Linked DNA regions of Homo sapiens. The protein of the gene in region 1 interacts with the protein of each later gene in a biochemical or structural test. Each region holds a gene or a part of one and is shown in the gene's direction. Other genes may lie near its edges.

Evidence for each region. The genes of interacting proteins can lie anywhere in the genome.
Region 2: of the proteins of CDK8 (region 1) and ERCC3, one has a biochemical effect on the other in vitro, tested with the Homo sapiens proteins (one study listed by BioGRID).
Region 3: the proteins of CDK8 (region 1) and NRIP1 form a complex in vitro, tested with the Homo sapiens proteins (one study listed by BioGRID).
Region 4: the proteins of CDK8 (region 1) and SMARCA4 form a complex in vitro, tested with the Homo sapiens proteins (one study listed by BioGRID).

Annotation. Positions count from the first base shown.
Region 1 is NC_000013.11:26,393,462-26,397,343, forward strand, and holds part of CDK8 (cyclin-dependent kinase 8), read left to right. Parts: coding exon 1-49; intron 50-2,823; coding exon 2,824-2,893; intron 2,894-3,691; coding exon 3,692-3,764; intron 3,765-3,882.
Region 2 is NC_000002.12:127,259,692-127,263,250, reverse strand, and holds part of ERCC3 (general transcription and DNA repair factor IIH helicase/translocase subunit XPB), read left to right. Parts: intron 1-1,904; coding exon 1,905-2,023; intron 2,024-3,559. UniProt on the Homo sapiens protein: ATP-dependent 3'-5' DNA helicase/translocase. Binds dsDNA rather than ssDNA, unzipping it in a translocase rather than classical helicase activity. Component of the general transcription and DNA repair factor IIH (TFIIH) core complex.
Region 3 is NC_000021.9:14,960,459-14,964,106, reverse strand, and holds the end of NRIP1 (nuclear receptor-interacting protein 1), read left to right. Parts: 3' UTR 1-2,872; downstream 2,873-3,648. UniProt on the Homo sapiens protein: Modulates transcriptional activation by steroid receptors such as NR3C1, NR3C2 and ESR1. Also modulates transcriptional repression by nuclear hormone receptors.
Region 4 is NC_000019.10:11,054,924-11,058,805, forward strand, and holds part of SMARCA4 (SWI/SNF-related matrix-associated actin-dependent regulator of chromatin subfamily A member 4), read left to right. Parts: intron 1-3,331; coding exon 3,332-3,440; intron 3,441-3,864; coding exon 3,865-3,882. UniProt on the Homo sapiens protein: ATPase involved in transcriptional activation and repression of select genes by chromatin remodeling (alteration of DNA-nucleosome topology).

The DNA of each region.
Region 1 (3,882 bases):
CACCATGACCAGCTGGACAGAATATTCAATGTAATGGGATTTCCTGCAGGTACACATTATTCGTTTTTGTTTTTGTTTTTAAATCACTGTTGTTTGAACTTAGATGTCTTCGTTGGAGAGGTATATATTTTTAGCTGATGGAAGCTACTTTTACTTGAGTCTTTGTTTTTTGACTTGCATTTATCAAAGATCCGTAGAAACAGCAAAATTTGTAGAGTTTACATATTGGCATGGAAATATTTATGGGTTTCCTGAATTTCAGGACTGTATTTTTGTTTCATCTTGTTTTACTTTTTTGTTTTGTTATTTGGTATTTGAAATGATAAAATATGTTCAATATCTGTATTAAAAAGGTACCTTTAGCTCTTACCAGTAGAAACTATAAATGAATTCAGTAGTAGGAATTTTTTTCTGGCAGCACATATAATACTGCCACTATTTGGCATTCAAATATAAATTTTGAACCTTATTTCTATTTAGGGCACTATACAGAATCACATTATATTGAATAATAGCATTTAAGTCTTCTCTTAGAACAGTCACAATGTGGGTGAGAGTCATAGTACCCTATGGTGAGTTAGCCTGCTGTTTTGCAACAGAGAGATGGTTTACATGTATCCTATCCCTGGTATTAGATCTCTCCAACTGTATCTCAATCCCTAGTTATATTACAGAACGGTAATCACCAAAAACTGCTCAGAGGTCCAGAATAATGAGAATTTGTTTAAAACACCTAAATTTTGGCTAGTCAAGTACTTAGTAGAAAGTGTTTCTTATTAGGAATATTTCTCAGGTCACTATAAACTCAAGACTAATAGAGATAATACCTGGGACTTTTAATTCTACATTCCCTTGTAAGGGTGTTAATTATCAGTAAATGCAGAATAACTACACAGATACTGCCTTTCTCCAAAATTGGTCACCAGTGTGGAGAAGACTTCTGTTGTGATGGGAATTTTATTTATTCAGTAAATATTTATTGAGTACCTGCCATGTGCCAGGCACTGTCTTAAGTAAAAAGTTATTGATGATGTAACAGACATGATTTTTGCCCCCTTGGAGTTTGCATTGTACTGCTATATGTAGAATGTTTAAAAAGTAGGTATGGTTTTGAGTAGAGACAGAAGAATTCTGTTTTCTTCCTGCTTCTGAATGTGTCCACCATTTCTGAGCCCACGGGAAAGGCATAGCTTCTGTGAGGGAGTAGATGTGGTGAAGATGTCTATCAGTGACTCTTAATATGTGGTTCAGAGGTTAGGGTGGTTTATAAGGAAGCTTGGAAAGCAGGCAGCAGAGGTTAGATTTGATAGCTAAAGAATGAGAATCCATCAGTTCTTGAGTACTAGAGACATGCTTTATGTTGCATTTTAGAAAGATTTAGTAAGATGGTGGTAGGTAAAAATCTGTTAAAAAGAGCTAACTGAAATCAGAAACCAGCTGTAGCAGTGCTGCAGACAGAAAGTAGAGTGAAGATAAGGATGGAGAAAAAAGGGCAGATGGAAATGTTTTATAGGAAGTGTATAAGCAAGGGAAAACTAAAGATTATCTTAAAATTTCTAGCATGAGAAATTGATAAAACACAGAAATTGGAGCAAGGAAAATAGTTAAGGAGAAAATTCCATTTAGGAGTGTAGTGTATGTTTAGTTTACAATATGTGATGTCTTTGGAGGATAGTTACCAAATATTTTTACAAGTAAGTTCAAAGAAAAGCAAGCCTCTAAAGGCCATTTAAAAGCTAAAGGTTTTGCGAGGCCGCGGTGGGCGGATCACCTGAGGTTGGGAGTTTGAGACCAGCCTGAACAACATGGAGAAACCCCGTCTCTACCAAAAATACAAAATTAGCTGGGCATGGTGGCTACATGCCTGTAATGTATTACAGGCATGGGATTACATGCCTGTAATCCCAGCTACTCTGGAGGCTGAGGCAGGGGAATCACTTGAACCTGGGAGGCAGAGGTTGGGGTGAGCCGAGATCGCACCATTGCACTCCGGCCTGGGCTGTTAACAAGAGCGAAACTCCGTCTCAAAAAAAAAAAAAAAAGAGCTAAAGGTGCTGTTAAGCTGCCTGTGACAGTCCTTTGCACCTAGTAGACTCTCAGGAAAACCCATTGGCAGATATTGGAGAGAACACATTATGTAGCATGTATTGTTTGAGCAACTTGGATGCCAGCAAAAGTAGCTGAAACGTTTTGTACTTAACGTATTTAGGAGCTGGGGTTGTTTTGGGTAATGTTAACCAGACTAGCCAAGGTACCAGCCCACTTATTAATATACTAATTATATCCTACCCTATTGTGCAAATAGTTATTACCCCTTCTTCCATTGATTGCTTATGTAAAGAAATATATTTAACAAGGTGAAAGGAGGGCTGTATCATAAAAAGAAGTATAGTTTAAAGCCACTGAGGGGAAGATCTTAGATTTCTCATTGAAGAAATTGATTGCTGACTTAACCAAGAAATTTGGTAGAAAAGGGGAAATAAGCAGTTTTACTAATAGAAAGAGGACATTTAATAAGATAAATAGAAATATGTATAACTTATTCTTCTCTAGTGACAGAAATTGAGGCAGCTTATAGTAAAACATACAGAAAGTTTGCAGTTTAAAATTTAAAATATAAACAGATATATAAAGTTATATAAGGGATAAGGAATTATGTTTACACTTCAAGATATTTACTGTTGCTGAACATTTATTTGAAGACAGCTTTTTTGTGTGGAGGTTGAACGGATAGGAAATGTAATGAACGTGGTAATAACCTTTTTAAAAATTCTCAAGAATAGGAACTTAGGCAACATAAAAATTTATCAATGTATTTCACAGATAAAGATTGGGAAGATATAAAAAAGATGCCTGAACATTCAACATTAATGAAAGATTTCAGAAGAAATACGTAAGTTGGAAAAAAAGAGACTCCTTGTTGATTTTTGCTTTACCAGAATACTCAGTGTAAGACTGAATATTCAACATAATAAAATACTCAATATAAGATTACTCTAATAAATAATTTTACTTATTTACTCTAATAAATATTTTTCATGATGACAGTCTTTATTTCTTAAGATGCTTAAATGATTATATACAAAAGTGACTAATATTAGCAGCTGATTTGGATATAAAACAAATTCATGTCTTTCCATATTGACTACTTTTTGGAAGCTAGACATTAGTGAGAAGTATCACAGCTGAATAAATAAGAATCTAAATAAATAAACTTTGGTAATAGCCACTTGCTCACCAATCTAGGTTACAGTAATTTTAAGCAGGTTTTAACAGAGAAGAATGGATATTTCACCTGTTTACAATGCAAAGCCAGGGATTGGGAGAGTTTAGTTTGTATACCTATGACAAAAGTATTTTACACTTATTGGTAAGGCTGAATTAAACTTTTGACCCAGATGTTATTTAAAATAATTGTTAAAATATAATTCATGTGAAAAAAAAAGCTGTTTAGTGTCTGTTATTCATGAAATTGTCTTACATTTAATCATCGGTATCCTTTCAAAAGTGACCATTGTGGATATTGAATGAAATAGAAAACTGATTTAATTCTACTCATTTTATGCTCATAGTGTTTTCAATATATATTTTATATCGGTTATGATCAAAATAATTCTCATCAGAAGGACTTTAGCCAATGTACAATTAACCTCAAGTCTAATATAGCTATTTCATAGTATTTCTCTTTCAGGTATACCAACTGCAGCCTTATCAAGTATATGGAAAAACATAAAGTTAAACCAGATAGTAAAGCATTCCACTTGGTAAGCATTGGTTAACAGTATTAATGAAATGCATTTTTTCCTTAATTGACTAGCCCAACTGAGGCTTTTTTGGATCAATTTATGTGGTTACTTAGCTAGCACTCAGAGTGCTTTCATG
Region 2 (3,559 bases), on another chromosome or scaffold:
CTGCCCAAAACAATCTACAGATTCAACACTATTCTATCAAATTGCCAACATCATTTTTCACAGAATTAGAAAAAAAACTTATAAAATTCATCTGGAACCACAAAAGCACCTGAATAGCCAAAGCAATCCTAAGCAAAAGGAACAAAGCCAAAGGCCTCACAGTATCCAACTTCAAACTATGCTACAGGGCTTACAGTAACCAAAACAGCATGGTACTGGTACAGAACAGGCACATAGACCAATGGAGCAGAATAGAGAGCTCAGAAATAATGCCATGTACCTGCAGCCAACTGATGTTCAACAAAATTGGCAAAAATATGCAGTGGGGAAAGTACTCCCTATTCAATAAATGGTGCTGGGGAAACTGGCTAACTGTATGCAGAAGGATGAAACCAGACCCCTGCCTATCACCACATACAAAAATCAACTCATAATGGATTAAAGATGTAAATGTAAGACCTCAAACTATAAGGATCCTCGAAGAAAACCTAGGAAATACAATATTCACAAAGTTGTGCAACTATCAACACAATTCATGTTTAGAATATTCTCATCAGCTCCCAAAAGAAACCCTCATCCATGCACAGCCACTCCTAATTTCCTCTTGTTCCCAACCCCCAGCTCTAGGCAGCCCCTAATCTACTTTGATGTCTGTAGGCCTTTTCTGGACATTTCATGTAAATGCAGTCAGACCACTTGGGGCCTTCTGTGACTGGTTTCTTTTCACTTAGCATAATGTTTTGTTTGTTTGTTTTTTGGAGATGGAATCTCGCTCTATCGCCCAGGCTGGAGTACAGTGGGGCGATCTTGGCTCACTGCAACCACTGCCTCGCAGGTTCAAGGGATTCTCCTGCCTCAGCCTCCCGCGTAGCTGGAATTACAGGCATGAGCCACCACGCCTGGCTAATTTTTCTATTTTTAGTAGAGATGGAGTTTCACCATGTTGGCCAGGCTGGTCTCAAACTCCTGACCTTGAGTGATCCACGCCCACCTCAGCCTCCCAAAGGGCTGGGATTACAGGACTGGGTCACCACACCCGGCAGCATAATGTTTTCAAAAAGATTATCTATATTGTAGCATCTGTCAGTACTTCATTCTTTTTTATTGCTAAATAATATTCGATTCCATGGACATACCACATTTTATTTATCCACACATCTGTTGATGGACATTTGGGCTGTTTCCACTTTTTGGCTCTTAGAAGAATTCTGCTATGAAATTCATGTACAAATTTTTGTGTGGATATAGTTTCATTTCTCTTGGATTTATGCCTGGAAGTGGAATTGCCAGGTCATGTGGTTATAACAGTGTGTTTAACATTTTGATGAACTGCCAGACTGTTTTCCAAAGCAGCCGCATCATTTACATTCTCAACAGCAATGCATGCGGGTTCTAGTTTTTCCACATCCTTGACAACAGTGGCAGTTATCTGCTTTTTTGATTGTAGCCATCCTCGGAGAGGGGCGTGAGGTGATAATCTCATTGTGCTTTTGAGTTGCATTTCCCTGGTGATTAATGGTGTGGAGCATCATTTCATGTGCTTACTGGCTATTTTTATATTGTTTTTGGAGAAGTAATCTGTTCATATTCTTCTCTCATTTATAATTAATTTGTCTTGTTGTTGAGTTTCAACAGTTCTTTGTATAACCTAGATACAAATCCCTTATCAGATATATGCTTTCCACATTTTTTTATTCTGAGGATTGTTTTTTCACTTGATGGTGTCCTTGGAAGCACAAAAGACTTCCAAATTTTGATGCAATCCCATGCCAAGTTCAGGTGGTAACCCCGAGTGCAGGGCTTTTCCACTCCAGTGCTTGCTTTTGAGCCTGGGACCCTTAGCTCTTGGCATTCTAATGGCTAATGTTGTCTTCTTTATTGCCGTTTCTCATTTTTTCCTGCAGGGATGGTTGCAGAAGAGTACAATGCCTTTTTCTACTCACTGGTATCCCAGGACACACAGGAAATGGCTTACTCAACCAAGCGGCAGAGATTCTTGGTAGATCAAGGTTATAGCTTCAAGGTACATATCCATTTGGCTTCTGGTTAGACTAGGACCAAGGCCTTCTTGATACCCTGGCCTCCAGGAGAAGCGAGGGCCACTGTCAGCAGGCAGGCACCAAGCATTAGGAGATTAGAGGCCTTGCCTCAAACTCCCTTTATCTCTGCATGAATCTCTGAGGGCAGCTGTTGGTGGAAAGTGTGCCGTCCTGGCAGGACTGAGGTGCCATGGCACTATGACCAGCACTGTGTGAATCTGAGCCCCGCAGGGCTGCTTTCTCAGGGATGCCTCTCTAGGTAGCTAGGAGAGCTCTTCCTTTCATCAGCTGGTAAGCTCCAGGCCTTAGTTTGCCTCAGTTTGCCTCCCAGACATCAGAGCTATCCTGTACTACAAATCAGGTATTTTAATAATTGGGAAATTCTAAAGCTTTGGCTAACTTTCACTGGCTGAGGCATTTGCTTTCTTTCCTGTTACACAAATATTACGTTTATGTCAGTATTTGGTGTCCAGAGGGCTTTATATTTTGGGGATAGATGGAGGGTTCTAGAAGTAGGGGAATTAAATTCCCCCTATGGTCCACTAAAAGGACATCCCTAGAACATTAGACTCCCAGGTTCTTGATTGCAAAAGACTGCAATCCAGGCTGCCTTTTGAGATACGTTTTTAATGTGTCTCTTTATGCATTGGTGAGAGTTCCCATTATTGGCCTTAGGAGGACAGGGTTGTCTGACCTTCCCTCTTTTAGCTAGAGGCAGTGACACTTCAGACCTCTCATGCTGGCCTAGAGGACAAGATGCTTGGGTTTTGAGCCCAGTTTTTTGGAGGATTTGCATCATGACCTTTTTATCCATCCATGAAAATCCCTGTTGGTAATAGCATTCCTACCTCCTGATTCCTGCCGAGCTGTGAGGGTAAGAGGAGCACCAGGTCAGAAAGAGCAATTCTTTGAAAGGTGACCTCGACAAAAAGGCACAATGCCATGCCGTAGTAGTTTGTGTTGGTTGGAGCTGTGTCTTCGGTGCTGCCTGTTGAGGAGCAGTGGTTGGAGTTCCCAGAGTCATGACGTGGAGTGGCTGGGCCTGGGCAGATGTGCACATCGTCTGTACTCTGGATCCCTGGCCCAGAAGGACTCAGATCCTTACTTCTAGGAATTTTCATTTAATGAACATTATGAGAATTGGAGGGAAGGAGAATTCCCTTTACAGAATCAACCCAAGTTTTCTGCAGGGATAGGGAGCCCTTGTAGTAAGTTATCCCCATAGAAATGAAAACCCAGTCTCCACCATGCTGTTCTTACTCTCTCAGAGAAGCTCTATAAATAATCTTCCTGATATCCTATCATTTTCATTTTCACGTGCTCATTCCTGCTGGAAGCCCCAGTTGCGGAGCACAGCAGATGCCAGGGACCTTCACAAAGGGCCACAGCCTGTGCCTTCCAGTCACTTGTCCCTTCCTTTGTCTGCTCCAAGATGTGAAGGCTACCCGAAGGAGCCTTTTAAAATCACTAAGATTCTTCCTGTTGATCTTCCATACATGATCATTTAGATGCTGTGTGCT
Region 3 (3,648 bases), on another chromosome or scaffold:
TTCAATATATATTTCTTTAAACCTTGTGCTACTTAGTAAAAATTGATTACAATTGAGGGAAGTTTGATAGATCCTTTAAAAAAAAGGCAGATTTCCATTTTTTGTATTTTAACTACTTTACTAAATTAATACTCCTCCTTTTACAGAATTAGAAAAGTTAACATTTATCTTTAGGTGGTTTCCTGAAAAGTTGAATATTTAAGAAATTGTTTTTAACAGAAGCAAAATGGCTTTTCTTTGGACAGTTTTCACCATCTCTTGTAAAAGTTAATTCTCACCATTCCTGTGGTACCTGCGAGTGTTATGACCAGGATTCCTTAAACCTGAACTCAGACCACTTGCATTAGAACCATCTGGAGCACTTGTTTTAAAATGCAGATTCATAGGCAGCATCTCAGATCTACAGAACAAGAATCTCTGCTAAGTGGACCTGGAATCTTCCATCTGCATCTTAACATGCTCTCTAGGTGTTTCTTGTGTTTGAGAACCATGACTTATGACTTTCCTCAGAACATGAGACTGTAAAACAAAAACAAAAAACTATGTGATGCCTCTATTTTCCCCAATACAGTCACACATCAGCTCAAAATTTGCAATATTGTAGTTCATATATTACCGTTATGTCTTTGGAAATCGGGTTCAGAACACTTTTTATGACAAAAATTGGGTGGAGGGGATAACTTTCATATCTGGCTCAACATCTCAGGAAAATCTGTGATTATTTGTGTGTTCTAATGAGTAACATCTACTTAGTTAGCCTTAGGGATGGAAAAACAGGGCCACTTACCAAACTCAGGTGATTCCAGGATGGTTTGGAAACTTCTCCTGAATGCATCCTTAACCTTTATTAAAACCATTGTCCTAAGAACAATGCCAACAAAGCTTACAACATTTAGTTTAAACCCAAGAAGGGCACTAAACTCAGATTGACTAAATAAAAAGTACAAAGGGCACATATACGTGACAGAATTGTACACAATCACTCCATTGGATCTTTTACTTTAAAGTAGTGATGAAAAGTACATGTTGATACTGTCTTAGAAGAAATTAATATATTAGTGAAGCCACATGGGGTTTCAGTTGCGAAACAGGTCTGTTTTTATGTTCAGTTTGTACAATCCACAATTCATTCACCAGATATTTTGTTCTTAATTGTGAACCAGGTTAGCAAATGACCTATCAAAAATTATTCTATAATCACTACTAGTTAGGATATTGATTTAAAATTGTTCTACTTGAAGTGGTTTCTAAGATTTTTATATTAAAAATAGGTGTGATTTCCTAATATGATCTAAAACCCTAAATGGTTATTTTTCCTCAGAATGATTTGTAAATAGCTACTGGAAATATTATACAGTAATAGGAGTGGGTATTATGCAACATCATGGAGAAGTGAAGGCATAGGCTTATTCTGACATAAAATTCCACTGGCCAGTTGAATATATTCTATTCCATGTCCATACTATGACAATCTTATTGTCAACACTATATAAATAAGCTTTTAAACAAGTCATTTTTCTTGATCGTTGTGGAAGGTTTGGAGCCTTAGAGGTATGTCAGAAAAAATATGTTGGTATTCTCCCTTGGGTAGGGGGAAATGACCTTTTTACAAGAGAGTGAAATTTAGGTCAGGGAAAAGACCAAGGGCCAGCATTGCTACTTTTGTGTGTGTGTGTGTGGGTTTTGTTTTGTTTTTTTGGTTGGCTGGTTGTTTTCGTTGTTGTTAACAAAGGAATGAGAATATGTAATACTTAAATAAACATGACCACGAAGAATGCTGTTCTGATTTACTAGAGAATGTTCCCAATTTGAATTTAGGGTGATTTTAAAGAACAGTGAGAAAGGGCATACATCCACAGATTCACTTTGTTTATGCATATGTAGATACAAGGATGCACATATACACATTTTCAAGGACTATTTTAGATATCTAGACAATTTCTTCTAATAAAGTCATTTGTGAAAGGGTACTACAGCTTATTGACATCAGTAAGGTAGCATTCATTACCTGTTTATTCTCTGCTGCATCTTACAGAAGAGTAAACTGGTGAGAGTATATATTTTATATATATATATATATATATATATATAATATGTATATATATATATATTGACTTGTTACATGAAGATGTTAAAATCGGTTTTTAAAGGTGATGTAAATAGTGATTTCCTTAATGAAAAATACATATTTTGTATTGTTCTAATGCAACAGAAAAGCCTTTTAATCTCTTTGGTTCCTGTATATTCCATGTATAAGTGTAAATATAATCAGACAGGTTTAAAAGTTGTGCATGTATGTATACAGTTGCAAGTCTGGACAAATGTATAGAATAAACCTTTTATTTAAGTTGTGATTACCTGCTGCATGAAAAGTGCATGGGGGACCCTGTGCATCTGTGCATTTGGCAAAATGTCTTAACAAATCAGATCAGATGTTCATCCTAACATGACAGTATTCCATTTCTGGACATGACGTCTGTGGTTTAAGCTTTGTGAAAGAATGTGCTTTGATTCGAAGGGTCTTAAAGAATTTTTTTAATCGTCAACCACTTTTAAACATAAAGAATTCACACAACTACTTTCATGAATTTTTTAATCCCATTGCAAACATTATTCCAAGAGTATCCCAGTATTAGCAATACTGGAATATAGGCACATTACCATTCATAGTAAGAATTCTGGTGTTTACACAACCAAATTTGATGCGATCTGCTCAGTAATATAATTTGCCATTTTTATTAGAAATTTAATTTCTTCATGTGATGTCATGAAACTGTACATACTGCAGTGTGAATTTTTTTGTTTTGTTTTTTAATCTTTTAGTGTTTACTTCCTGCAGTGAATTTGAATAAATGAGAAAAAATGCATTGTCTCTGGTTTGAAATGACTGTTATTTTGTGGGCTTTCTCTGGTTTTTAGGTTTTCCATAAACGTAAAACACATTGCTATGAATATAACAGTGATCTTCAAGGATGTTTTGCCCTTCTTAGAAAAATAAAGGGGACAAAAAAGAAGGTGGCTGGCAAGTTAGTGCACTAGAAACAGGGTAATTAAGGCATAACTCAAAGTGACAATCAGCCTATGGCCTTTCTCCCATGATTCAGTGTGTAACTAGTTGATCACTGTAAATTTTTAAACTAGAAAATAGTTTGTGCAGTATTCAAAATTAATGTTGACTATATGTATATACATACACACTTCATTTTAGGATAAGACTTTATCAGAAGGCTTTTATCCAGTTTTTAATGGGTGTGGTTTATTTTAAATAAAAGAAAAAGGAGTTTAATAATTTTCCAAAAATGAATGTGTATGTATATACACGTGTTTACATGTTTAAATATATGCTGTATGTGTATAGGTAATGAGTAATTGATAAGCAACATACATACTCAATAAGTATTAGAGACCAGTGGATTCCAAGAAAAAAAAAAAAACTTTGTACCCAGGTAAACTTAACAGCTTAGGAATTTTTATTTTTACAAATAATGATAATTTATGAGAAAGACATTTTCCCAAAGAGGAATTCTGTTTCCTGGGACCCAGATAGGTCTATTGTAATCCATGCAGCTTCTCTCTTAATAGGTTTATAAATGTCTAAAAATGTTCAAGTAATAAAAATACTTCCTGCTGTTCTACATTATTAAAATG
Region 4 (3,882 bases), on another chromosome or scaffold:
TGACATCAAAGGTGGTGGCGCCTATCCAGAGGACTCCGGGTTTCATTCCAAGTGCGGGGAGGCTGCAGCATGTCCCTCTTTAATATAGAGGTGAGGGAGGCTCTCAGCACCCTGCCTGTTGCAGGGAAGCCTGAGGACAGGACCTCCAGGGAACTCTGCACCAGAGCGGAATCCTCAGACCGGCAACTGGGTGGTCTTGATTCATCCAGAACGTAATTCTCCTAGAGGTCTGGGAAGGGGTGCTCTTGTACCTTGGTTTTGTGTTTTGTTTTTGTTTGTTTTTTGAGACAGAGTCTCACTCTGTCGCCCAGGCTAGAATGCAGTGGTGCGATCTCGGCTCACTGCAACCTCTGCCACCCAGGTTCAGGTGATTCTCCTGCCTCAGCCTCCCGAGTAGCTGGGATTGCAGGTGCCTGTCACCACGCCTGGCTCATTTTTGTATTTTTAGTAGAGACGGGGTATCACTATCTTGGCCAGGCTGGTCTTGAACTCCGGACTTCGTGATCCACCCACCTCAGCCTCCCAAAGTTCTGGGGTTACAGGCGTGAGCCACTGCGCCCAGCCGCACCTTGTTTTTTTTTTGCTGCCTGTAGCTGTTTCTCATTAGCCTGATGGAGGTGGCTGTTGGGGTGGTGGGGTGCTTATTATAAAGCCTTCTGCTGTCACAGCCCTGGGGTCTCACTTCCTGGGCTCTCTGCATAGGGAGCCGCCCTCCAGGGCAAGGGCCACAGTGTGCAGTAAGCCCCCCATGGCCACAGGGCAGGGCGTTTCAAGCCAAGAGTCTGCACTGTTTGCTGGCCACTAAGGGCATTGAATGGATCACAAAACTGGCTTTTTTTTCCCCCAGTCAAATAGAAATGGGGTTTTGCCATGTTGTCCAGGCTGGTCTCAAACTCCTGGGCTCAAGCAATCCTCCCACGTTGGCCTCCCAAAGTGCTGGGATTACAGGCACGAGCCACCATATCTTTAAAAATGTAATAGAATGGAAAATGGCAAAGCGCGCTGCTTTTCATAGAAGAGACTATCGCATTGGGGTTCTTCTGTTGCCCCTGCCTGTGCTGCACGTCCTGCTTCACAGTGTAAAGCGCAACTCTTGCTGTGCCTTATTGTAACAGGTATAGGGTGGATGCTGCCATCATGAAGAGAGAGGAGAGCTCTTTGCTTATAAAATTCCGTAGAGTGGAGAACAGGATGTGCCGGCTTAGGAGAGGGAAGAGGTACAGGCCCGCTCTGCCCGAGCTGCAGATGGGACACACATTTCCCGACTCAGAGGGGAGTCGTGTCTTTCTCCAGGGTCACCGAGCAGCAAGCGCATCCACTGTGTGTTCTTATTTTCTGAGCCTGTGGACTGGGTTTACCAACAGTTGCCTGTGGCAGAGCCGGCCACCAGCCCGCTCATAGGAAAAAGGAAGCCTGTGCCTCCAGGGAGGGCCCACGATGGGAATGCAGTCTGAGAAGGGTATGTGCTCCCATGCTGGACCGGCTGGTCCCACACCCAGGACCAAAAACACCTCCTGGCAGGAGATGGGGAGATGTACTTCATGAACACACGTTGGGGAAGGACACTCCTGGAAGGCAGAGGCTCAAGGCGGGCTGTGTCCAGGCCAGGAGATTCACTCCCACCTCAATTTCCTCCTCAGCACGGCTGGCCTGGCACTGGTGCCTGCTTCAGAGTTTAGTGTGTGTAAAGTGTGGCTGGCCCAGCAAGCAGGGGATGATGGCGGTTGTCAAGGCCAGGGGAGGTGCAGGGACAGGATTCTGGCTCCCGTGTGTAACGTCTGCATCTCAGGAGGCTCTCATGTTAGAAGCTGGGTCAGGGGCTTCGTGATGCACACAAACACCAAACAAGCAGGAGGCCTTCCGGGATCCTGCTCACGAGCAGCTTCCTGGAGGCAAGCCTGGCCCGTCTGCCCCTTGGTGACATCAGGACCCCAGCAACAGAACCAGGGAAGCCACCATGTTGTCGCTGCCATTTTCCAGCGTGGTAAACAGAAGCAAGACAAGGCGCACTCAGGACACCCAAACAGACGGCGGGGCCAGCCAGTGGCATGGGCGGGCTGCCCTGCCCTCTGGAATTTTCTGGGAAAGAACATAAGGAAAGAAGCGGTGCTGATGAGGCAGCTGGAGTTATCAGGACCCAAGCTCAGCTCCTCCTTCCCATCAGGCCCCGTTGGCCACTTTTAGGCTTCGTCCGCCTGGTGGCTCCCTGCTTGGGGCCGTTCCCTGGCTAGGCCCTTCCTCTGGGCCAAAGCAGAGAGGAGAGCGCGTTTGCCATGCGTTCTCATTTTCCCAGCCTGCGGGCTGGGTTCTGTCAGAGCAAGGTCAGCTCTCAGAGCTTCTGTCCCCACCCACCCTGTCCTGCTGAGCCAGGCTCAGGTATGGGTAAGAGCTGGGAGCGCTGTGCACGAGGCCTGGCAGCATCTCATCACTGCCGCTGTACCGAGTGCACAAGGGCGCTTCCTGTGGTGTTCAGGGGGTTAGATCAGTCCCCAGTGAGGACAGAGCAGAGATCCAGATGCATCCCAGGCCGGCTGCAGTGGCTTCTGCCTCTAATCCCAGCACTTCGGGAGGCCAAGGCAGGCAGATCACGAGGTCAAGAGATCGAGACCATCCTGACCAACATGGTGAAACCCTGTCTCTACTAAAAATACAAAAATTAGCCGGGTGTGGTGGCTGGCATCTGTAATCCCAGCTACTCGGGAGGCTGAGGCAGGAGAATTGCTTGAGCCCAGGAGGCAGAGGTTGCAGTGAGCCGAGATCATTCCATTGCGCTCCAGTCTGGCGACAGAACAAGACTCTGTCTCAAAAAAAACAAAAAACAAAAAAATGTATCACAGGCCTGTTTGTGTGGTTGTCTCTGGGAAATGTTCCAGAAGCTACAAGAAAGCACATGTGCAGGCCAGGCATGGTGGCTCACACCTGTAATCCCAGCACTTTGGGATGCTGAGGCGGGCTGATCACCTGAGGTCGGGAGTTTGAGACCAGTCTGACCAACATGGAGAAACCCTGTCTCTACTAAAAATACAAAATTAGCCTGGCATGGTGGTGCACGACTGTAAAAAATCCCAGTGACTCCAAAGGCTGAGGCAGGAGAATCTCCTGAACCTGGGAGGTGGAGGTTGCAGTGAGCCGAGATCGCACCATTGCACTCCAGCCTGGGCAGCAAGAGCGAAACTCCGTCTCAAAAAAAAAAAAAGCGCATGTGCAAGAAATAGCTCCTGAGCTGAGTTGGAATTTCTCATCCTTAAACAATGTGGGAACCTGCTGAGGTGGGGTGGGGGCTCCCGGGTGGGCGGACTCGGGGGTGATAGCCGCCGGTTCTGCCTTGCAGCAGCAGTGGACGTCAGCTCAGCGAGGTCTTCATCCAGCTGCCCTCGCGAAAGGAGCTGCCCGAGTACTACGAGCTCATCCGCAAGCCCGTGGACTTCAAGAAGATAAAGGTAACCCTGACGTTGTACCTGCGCCCCGCATGTGCCCGGAGGGGAGTCTGACCCAGGGGCACCCCCATCTGAGAGCTGTGGTGTGTGGGCAGAATGACCAGAAACCACCTAGGCGGTGCCTTGGGCTACCTGGTTAGGGACCTGGTCGTGGGCTTTTGGGGTTCCTTGTAAGGGTTGGGGGTGTCCTGAGGGATGTCAGTGGGCAGTCGGTGTTGGGTGTTCCTTCAAGGTCCCACTCACTTAGTGCTGGGCCTCAGTCATGCAGTTCCCATGCCTAGTGAGCCAGGTTACCGAGGCTGGCGCTTCGGCCACATCCTCATAGGCACGAGGAATCCTAGCCCGTGGGGTCTCCAGCACACAGCCAGGCCTGCGGGCAGGCGAGGCGGGGTCCTGAGGTAAGACCTGCTCCTCCCGTCCACTGCAGGAGCGCATTCGCAACCAC